2 separate regions of the Homo sapiens genome follow, and region 1 is linked to region 2. Evidence: fine-mapped expression QTL. A gene starts in region 2. The other region holds a variant in brackets. All regions are shown on one strand. Distances are from middle to middle.

Region 1 (4,384 bases), 39 kb before region 2:
ATGTTGCCTAGGCTTGTCTTGATCTCCTCGGCTCAAGCAGTCCGCCTGCCTCTGCTGCCCAGAGTTTACAGGTATGAGCCACCACGCCTGGCCTCAAGCTTCTGTTCATCTTAAGCCAACAATTTTGTGGAAATTGGTTACAGGGGCCACAAGACACTGAGCCGCTCCAGGCCGGCAGCTTGCTGGTCCTGGCAGCCTCTGCGAGTGCTGTGGCTCTGATTTCATCTTGGGGCCTAGTGTTAGGCACAGCCTGGCCTGGAGGGCGGCTCACCTCACGGGCTGACGGAGCCAGACCCTTGCCCCGCCAGCGGTCCGAGGGGCCCTTCCAGCTACAGGTAGGACCCTCACACCCACCTTCTTTTTGCTTTTTTTCCCCACTCATCCATGGAGACTTCCAAGCTGCTTTTTATCTTCCCTGTCTTCCTCATATTTTCCTTTTGTGTCTTAAATGCTGTTGGAGTGCAGCAGACACCCCAGTGTGTGACCTGTGCCAGAAGCCTGGAGCTTTGTTGGCATGGCCAGTATTCGGCATGGAGGCAGGGCCTGGGGAGGCAGCAAGGTGCGGAGCCACCCGAGGATAGAGAAGCCTGAAAATGCGTCTGGAGGTGGGGTGTTGTGGGGCCGGGGAGCTGGAAGGTGTTCCATGAGACTGACAGACGTCACAAGGTCTGTGGGGAGTGTCTGGAGATTTTTAAAACTTCTCTTGTTGCTCAGACTGGAGTGCAATGGCACGATCTCAGCTCACTGCAACCTCTGCCTCCTGGGTTCAAGTGATTCTCCTGCCTCAGCCTCCTGAGTAGCTGGGATTACAGACGTGCACCACCACGCCCGGCTAATTTTGTATTTTTGGTAGAGACGGGGTTTCACCATGTTGGTCAGGCTGGTCTTGAACTCCTGACCTCAGGTGATCCACCAGCCTTGGCCTCCCAGAGTGCTGGGATTACAGGTGTGAGTTACCACGCCTGGCTGAGATTTTTAATCTGGGAAGGGATATCTGGAGATTGTGGAGGAATTTGGGCTTTCTCCTAAGGGCAGCGAAAAGCTGGCACTCCACAGGGTTCTGTGACACAGGCTTCATTCTGTGGTGTCCCTGCGGCTTCCTGGGAGAGAGGAGAAAAGTCAAAGGCAGGACCCCATCAAACCCACCGTGGTAACCCGCACAAGAAACAGTGGCTGAGCCAGGCATGGGGCAGGCTTGTGGAGCGGTGCATAGTGCCTGGAAGACGGGGACACAGGGTTTTGGCTGAATGTGAGGAGAGCACGCAGGAGGCGTCAGGAAGGACTTCCCCTCTCACTGCTCAGTACACGTGTGAGCATCGATGTCACAGGCTTCCAGGCAGAGGAGTGCGTACGTGAGGGTCTGCTGTGCGCTCAGTACAGAGTGGGTGTGGGTTTCTGGCTCAGGAGCCTCCCGTTGTTGTCACTTCTCCTCCTCTGTCTCTGGTCCTCCCACCTCCCTCATTGTAGGGATCATTGTGGTGACCCCAACAGTCTCCCCATCTAAAGATCCTCAACGTGGGTCTTTCCTTTCCATGTAGGGTCACATATTCACAGGTTGTAGGGATTAGGATATGGCCATCATTCAACCCACTAAGTCACGGTAAAAAAAAAAAAAAAATTACAATGCCCTGATCAGCATGCAAAGGGACAGGCAGAACAGGGAGGGGACACAGGACACAGGTTTGGTGGCATCAGGGTGAGTTTCTTCTCCTTGTGCAGGGGAGGCAAGAGTGTTCAGCATTTGCTGTTAGTGTGTCCTGACTGGCCTCTGAGTTCTCCTTCGCGTTCAGGAAGAGAAGGTGGTGAAAATAAACAGGGCTGGGTGCTCTGTGGCTGCAGGTTTTCTTCACATCTGCTGATGTGTGAGGTTGGCCTCAGGCTTAAGAGTCCTGTGCCTGACACAGGCTTGCCCGCAAGGTTCTTCCTCCCTGTAAAGCCATTTCTCAGCTCAGCACAGTCAGCATTTGGGGCCAGATCATCCTCTAGGGCTGCCCCATGAGCTGTAGAATGTTTTACACCTTCCTGGCCTCTGCCCACCAGATTGCAGCCAGTAGCTGTCCCCTTCTACACCTCTTCCCCCCTCCACTCCCACCAAACTCTGGAAACTGTCTTCAAACATGGCCAATGTTCCCGGAAAGCAAAACTGCCCCCAGTTGAGGACCTCTGCTGTGAAGAAATGGCCCACTTTTCTTGAAATTCCTGAAGGCCTGTTTCTTTAAGTAAGCCTGGTGTTCACTGTGTGCGGGTCCTTGAGACCATTCTCAGGTTGACCAGATGGACTCAGAACTCTGAAAAGCTCTTATATTCACAGTTACAGTTTAGTACATTGAAAAGATACAGATTAAAATTACAAGGCCAGGCATGGTGGCTCATGCCTATAATCCCAGCACTTTGGGAGGCCGGGGTGGGCGGATCGCCCGAGGTCAGGAGTTTGAGCCCAGCCTGGCCAACATGGTAAAACCCCGTCTTTACTAAAAATACAAAAATTAGCCAGGTGTGGTGGCTTGCACTTGTAGTCCCAGTTACTTGGGAGGCTGAGACAGGAGAATCGCTTGAACCCAGGAGACTGAGGTTGCAGTGACCCAAGATTGCGCCACTACACTCCAGCCTGGGCAACAGAGCAAGACTCCATCT[C/CA]AAAAAAAAAAAAAAAATTACAGTGGTCAAAGGCACGCATGTAAACGGGAGTCCGGGAGAGACCAGGACCAGCATTCAGCTCATTCAGCTCCCAGTGGAGTTGCGTAGACAGTGCTTAATTCTCCAAACGACCATGTGGACCAGGAAGCTCACCCAAGCCTTGGTGCTTAGGTTTCTTTATTGAGGGATGTGTTATGTAGGCATGGAGCCTATATAAATTACTTTGGTTACTCAGGCCCTCCAGAGATCCCCCTAATACACCATGGCCCAGTGCCCCTGGCAGGCAGAGACATTTTAACAGGCGGGATATCCCAAGGGCTCAGAGGTTACAGCCAGTCAAGGATCAGACCTTTCTTTTTCTTTCTTTTTTTTTTTTTGGAGACAGAGTTTTGCTCTGTCGCCCAGGCTGGAGTGCAGTGGCCTGATCTCTGCTCACTGCAAGCTCCGCCTCCCGGGTTCACGCCATTCTCCTGCCTCAACTTCCCGAGTAGCTGGCACTACAGGCACCCACCACCACGCCCGTCTAATTTTTTGTATTTTTAGTAGAGATGGGGTTTCATCATGTTAGCCAGGATGGTCTCTATCTCCTGACCTCGTGATCTGCACACCTCAGCCTCCCAAAGTGCTGGGATTATAGGCATGACTTGAGGTCAGGAGTTTGAGACCAGCCTGGACAACATCCTGAAACCCCGCTTCTGCTTAAAAAATACAAAAATTAGCTGGGCATTGTGATGCGCGCCTGTGATCCCAGCTACTCAAGAGGCTGAGGCAGGAGAATCGCTTGAACCTGGGAGGCGGAGGTTGCAGTGAGCTGAGATCGTGCTACCACACTCCAGCCTGGGCAACAGAGTGAAACTCCATCTCAAAAAAAAAAAGAAAGTACAGGGTGTGGACAACCCAGGCTTACTAAACCAGCCCTGCACATTCCCTGTAATGTGTGTGTGATGTGGCAGTGTGAACATTCCAGTATCATGGAATGATGGGTTTAGCATTTACCTTTTTGGGGTAGGGGTCATTTTTTTCTTTTTCTTTTTCTCCTTCTGTTTCTCTTTCTCCTTCTCTTTTCTTTTCTTTTTGTTATTGTTGTTGTTTGAGACAGGGTCTCATTCTGTCACCGAGGCTGGAGTGTGGTGGCACGATCACTACTCACTGCAATCTCAACCTCCTGGGCTCAAGCAATCATCCTGCCTCAGTCTCTCAAGAACTTGGGACCACAGGCATGCACCACCATGGCCAGCCAATTTAAAATATATATATATATTTAAATATATATATATATATATTTTTTTTTTTTTGTAGAGATAGGGTCTCACTGTGTTGCCCAGGCAGTTCTCGAACTCCTGGGCTCAAACGATGCTTCCGCCTTGGCCTCCCAAAATGTTGGGATTACAGGCGTGAGCCAATGTGCCTGGCCCACTTTGTTCTTTTGAGTAAGTTTAATGTTGGGAGTCAGGTAAATGTGTACATACACCAACTCTGTCTTGCAAGTTGAATATTTTGTCATAACTTATGTTATACTTTAAACCTTTTTTGGTAGGGTGTGAATGCCTCCTCCCCAAACTTGTCATCTGATAGCAATTCTAATCATTCACATTCCATTTCTTTTTTTTTTTTTTTGAGGTGGAGTCTCGCTCTGTCACCCAGGCTGGAGTGCAGTAGTGCGATCTCAGCTCACTGCAAGCTCCGCCTCCTGGGTTCACGCTATTTTCCTGCTTCGGCCTCCTGAGTAGCTGGGACTACAGGCGCCCGC
Region 2 (4,384 bases):
GTGAAGACATCTGTCAAAAGTCAGAATTTTATTTTTATTTTATTTTATTTTTGAGATGGAGTCTCACTCTGTCGCCCAGGCTGGAGTGCAGTGGCGCAATCTCAGCTAATCGCAACCTCCGCCTCCCAGTTTCAAGCGATTCTCCTGCCTCAGCCTCCTGAGTATCTGGGATTACAGGTGCCCGCCACCACACCTGGCTAATTTTTGTATTTGTATTAGAGACAAGGTTTCACCATGTTGGCCAGGGTGGTCTCAAACTCCTGACCTCAGGTGATCCACCCACCTCAGCCTCCCAAAGTGCTGGGATTCACTCACAGGCGTGAGCCACCACACCCAGCCAAAAGACAGAATTTTAACAAATTTGGTTAAAGATCGAATTGGCTTTTATTTGTGATTCATGAATCTGGGCAGCCTCCACTCTGCAAAACGGAATGAGAGCTCCCACGGGGCAAATGGTAGAATAGTGGTTTTTGTAAGATAGAGAAAAGGCTAATTAGTTAACACTAGGTTACTTTTCTTGTAAGGATTAAAGCAGAGGGGACTTCCTTATTATGCTGCTCAGGTAGACTGGAAATCTGGTTTGTTTAGGGATCTACCTGCTTAAAGTATCAGTCTGATTATGTGGCATTTAGCCTAAGTGACTCTGTCTTGGTTTGGTCTGGTCTCATGAGGCCTAGAGCAGGAGCTCAGTCCAAAACCATGTCCTCTCATAATTTTGTGTAACTTGCCTAACACCTGCTCCTTCTCAGGAACGAGGCCCAGCAAAAAGCAGAGACGGTACAGGGCCAGAAGGATCTGAGAGAGTGTGGCCAGCTTGAGCCCTCAGGAGTCGGCCAGAAGGATCTGAGAGAGTGTGGCCAGCTTGAGCCCCTCGGGAGTCAGCTCCTCCGTCCCCACTGGTAACGTCTTCACCCCTTCAACACGGTGTGAAGGGCCATGTCATGGTTGATCTTCAGTCCCTCAGACTACACCATCAGCCCCATGGGGGTGAGCAAATAACAAGTAACTATACTGTTCCCTGCTATGTGTCTGGCTCTTGGTAAAATTTAAAAAAGTTAAAAATTGTTGTGGTTTGAATGCAACATTTTTGAATGGAAATCTGCTTCCCCATTTTTCTTTTTTAATAACTTTTTATTTTTTTTTTGAGACGGAGTCTTGCTCTGTCACCCAGGCTGGAGTGCAGTGGCCTGACCTCGGCTCACGGCAACCTCCGCCTCCCAGGTTCAAGCGATTCTCCTGCCTCAGCCTCCCGAGAAGCTGGGACTACAGGTGCCCGCCACCACGCCGGGCTAATTTTTGTATTTTTAGTAGAGACGGGGTTTCACCATATTGGCCAGGTTGGTCTCGAGCTCCTGACATCGTGATCCACCCGCCTCGACTTCCCAAAGTGCTGGGATTATAGGCGTTAGCCACCGCGCCCGACCTTTAATAAACATTTTAATGGACTACAACAGACCCACAGAAAAAGACACATCACAAAGTGAACACCCACAGGGAGAAGCAATAGGGCTGTCAGAGGCATTCGACCCAGAGCGACTCCATTTTGAGTGAGGGCTAGGAAAATGAGGCTGGGCTGCATTCCCAGAAAAGTAGGTATTCCTAACCTCTAGATGTTTACGGTTAAGGGAACAAATTAATAATGGGTACTAAAACAGACCCAGACTTGGGAGTGTCCAGATATCCCGGTATCTAGAGAACAAAGGCATTCCTAATTTTGCTTTAAAAATAATATCGATTCTTGAAAAATACAGTAAGAAAATTAATCCTTTTTCACAAACCCTTGTAGCAGAGCACATCTCCCCAAAATCTATTTTTAGCCCAAATATACACAAGCATTGTACCTAGGGTGCATACGTTCCTCTTACTTTCAGGAACGTCCTACTGTCTATGGGGTAGCTGTTTCACAACTTTACTTTCTCAACAAACTTGCTTTTACTTTGCACTGCGGACTCGCCCTGAATTTTTTCTTGCGCGAGATCCAAGAACCCTCCCTTGGGGTCTGAATCGGACCCCTTTCCTGTAACACAACCACCGCTCCCAGCCTCCCCGCTTCCAGCCGCTAAGCCCAAAGTCTTTTATATGAACAAACCTCTAACTCGTCCTGTGACTTTGATGCGTGTGCGTTTTAGGCACCGGGGAGCAGAGGGTAAAGCGGCGCAGCTCCGGGCCTCCTCCCGCGCAAGTTCCCGAGAAGAGCAGGTCCGGCCCGCGCAGACGTGCACGGTCCCCAGCCATTAGGAGGAGCAGACGGTCCCCACCCCCACAATCAGTCATCTCTCGGGGTCCGCCCTTGCTTCCTGCCCACGAGTGAGGCCTCTGGTTGCCCGCAACCTAAGGGGCATCGCAGCCCCGAGCAACACCGCCCCCACCAGCCTTAGCTGAGTGCTCCCATTGGCCAGAGGCCAGCGGGTGGGGGCTCCCATTGGCCATCGGCCATAATGCTTCCATTGGTCGAAGGCCAGACCAGCGGAGACTCCCATTGGCCGAGGGCTGTGGTTCGCCGCACGGCCTACTGGGAGTTGTAGTCGCCGCGTCGCCGGTGCGGCCGCCATTGTCCGGCGTTCGGCGAGTCGGGTGGTCCCTTTGGCTGGAGTGCCTCTCTGGTCTGGGGATCACCTCAGGCGCTGTCCTTCACTGGGCGATCCAGCATGGACCCCGAGGACGAAGGGGTAGCGGGAGTGATGTCTGTGGGGCCGCCGGCGGCCCGGCTTCAGGTAACAATAACAACAATAACGACGGCGGCGGGCTCCGGGCAAGCGTCTCCCGCGCAGACTGACCCTTTCACCTCGCGGCGCGATGAGAGCGGCACCGCTGTTAATGCCCTTGACACGTGGGGAAACTCAGACGCGGGTCGGGGCGTGGTGACCGTCCTGGCTGGTCAGAGAGGGGGCCGGGATTCCAACCAGGCGCCTGGCCCCCGAATGCGCATGCTCCACGCGGCTCTGTCCTCCCCAGGGCTGGGGTCGGTCATTCCCGAGAGAATCGAGCAGGCCCATCTCCTGCGTTCTGCTCCGCCCCGCCGACACCCTTGCCCATTCCAGGAAGGTCTGTCCTCGTGTTGACTGATAACAGTAATTGTAGCGTTGGCCGGGTGCCCAGATGGCAAGAATCATCGAATAGAGATGCTTTAACGCGTGGAGTCAGCGGACACCCACCGGGACCCCAGCACCGCGGAGCCCCTGCCCTGGGGCTTGGGCACAACCTCTTGGGGGCAATGATGGGTCACCACGCACTGAGTGTGATGAGAGTGACCACCAGGGTCGTCCCCTGCGAGACTGTGGGAGAACTGCAGTGCAGGGCGGTCAGTGTTTGCAGGGCCATCTGGCCATCAGAGCTCCACTTTCTAGACAAAGTGGTTGCGGCCTGTGTTCTCCATAAAGCTGCCTCGCGTGGCAGGAAACAACAATAATTATCCTTCCTCAAGCTCTGCAACTTTGAAATTATACTTTTTTTTATTTTTTGTCGTTGGTTTGTTCATGGGGATTTGCATTATTTCAGATTTGGTACACAAAGTGAGACTTGATAATCTTAGGTTGCAGGTTTTCAGATGTGTGTTGCTCCAAATTTGCATGAAATGCTACCACGTTTTATTTTGTTCTTGCTGTGGATGGGGGACAAGGAATGAGTCGTAAGAAAGGCTTGAGAGAAAGTGTATTAGTTACCTGTTGCTGTGTAACTCAAAACTTCGTGACCTGGAACAACAATAAATATCTCACGAGTTCTGACAGGAGTAATGGAATGTCCTAGCTGGTGGTTCTGGTTCAGGCCCATGAAGTTACAGTGAAGATGTCAGCATAGCTGTTGTCACCTGAGACCTGAGTCTGGAGGATCCACCTCCAGGATGGCTCACTCACATGTCTGTTGATAGGAGACCTCAGTTGTTCTCCATGTAGGCCTCTCTTTGGAACTGCTAGGGATCCTTGCAACATGGCATCTGGCTTCCCACAGAACAAGTGATCCAGGAGAGGGCAAGGTAGAAACTGTAACACCTTCCATGACCTGGATTCAGAATTCACACTCTTGTCACTTCCACGGTGTCTTACTGGTTACAAAGTCAACCTTGTTGAGTGTTGGAGGGGACCACACCAGGGCTGGAGGTCATTGGCAGAGGTGGTGGGGGAGCATCTTGGAGACTGTCCATCACAGGAGACAAGGACCAGAATGGAGAGCTTCAAGGTCCAGTGTTTTATCTGGTTATCTGTGTCTGCTGTAACAATTCACTACAAATTTTGTGGCTTAAAACATTTGTTCTTAGGTTCTGGAGGTCAGAAGTCTGAAATCGGTTTTCTGGTCTGGAATCAAGGTATGAGCAGAGCTACCCTCCCTACCAAGGTTCTAGGGTAGAATGTTTCCTCGTCTTTTCCAGCTGTGAGAGGTACAGACC

What was found. PIP is the estimated chance that this variant, and not a neighbour inherited with it, causes the effect. A credible set is the group of variants that fine-mapping cannot tell apart.
Region 1: its variant is the best candidate, but not a certain one, in a credible set for the expression of ZNF8-DT in whole blood (INTERVAL, PIP 0.87).

Annotation. Positions count from the first base shown.
Region 1 is chr19:58,237,264-58,241,647 of GRCh38, forward strand. The region is part of intron 3 of ZNF544 (zinc finger protein 544); the gene reads left to right. Among named protein-coding and RNA genes, the nearest start is that of ZNF544, 11 kb to the left of the region's middle. The variant C/CA (reference allele first, on the strand shown) is at 2,635.
Region 2 is chr19:58,276,434-58,280,817 of GRCh38, forward strand. It overlaps ZNF8-DT (ZNF8 divergent transcript), which reads right to left and starts at 2,309. Exons shown (of 3, transcript NR_187495.1): 1 at 2,090-2,309. ZNF8 (zinc finger protein 8) reads left to right here and starts at 2,522. Exons shown (of 4, transcript NM_021089.3): 1 at 2,522-2,714. The coding sequence starts at 2,649. ZNF8-ERVK3-1 (ZNF8-ERVK3-1 readthrough (NMD candidate)) reads left to right here and starts at 2,533. Exons shown (of 7, transcript NR_144447.1): 1 at 2,533-4,176. It also overlaps a transcript of ZNF544 not described here. RefSeq lists enhancers at 2,598-2,647, 3,068-3,117.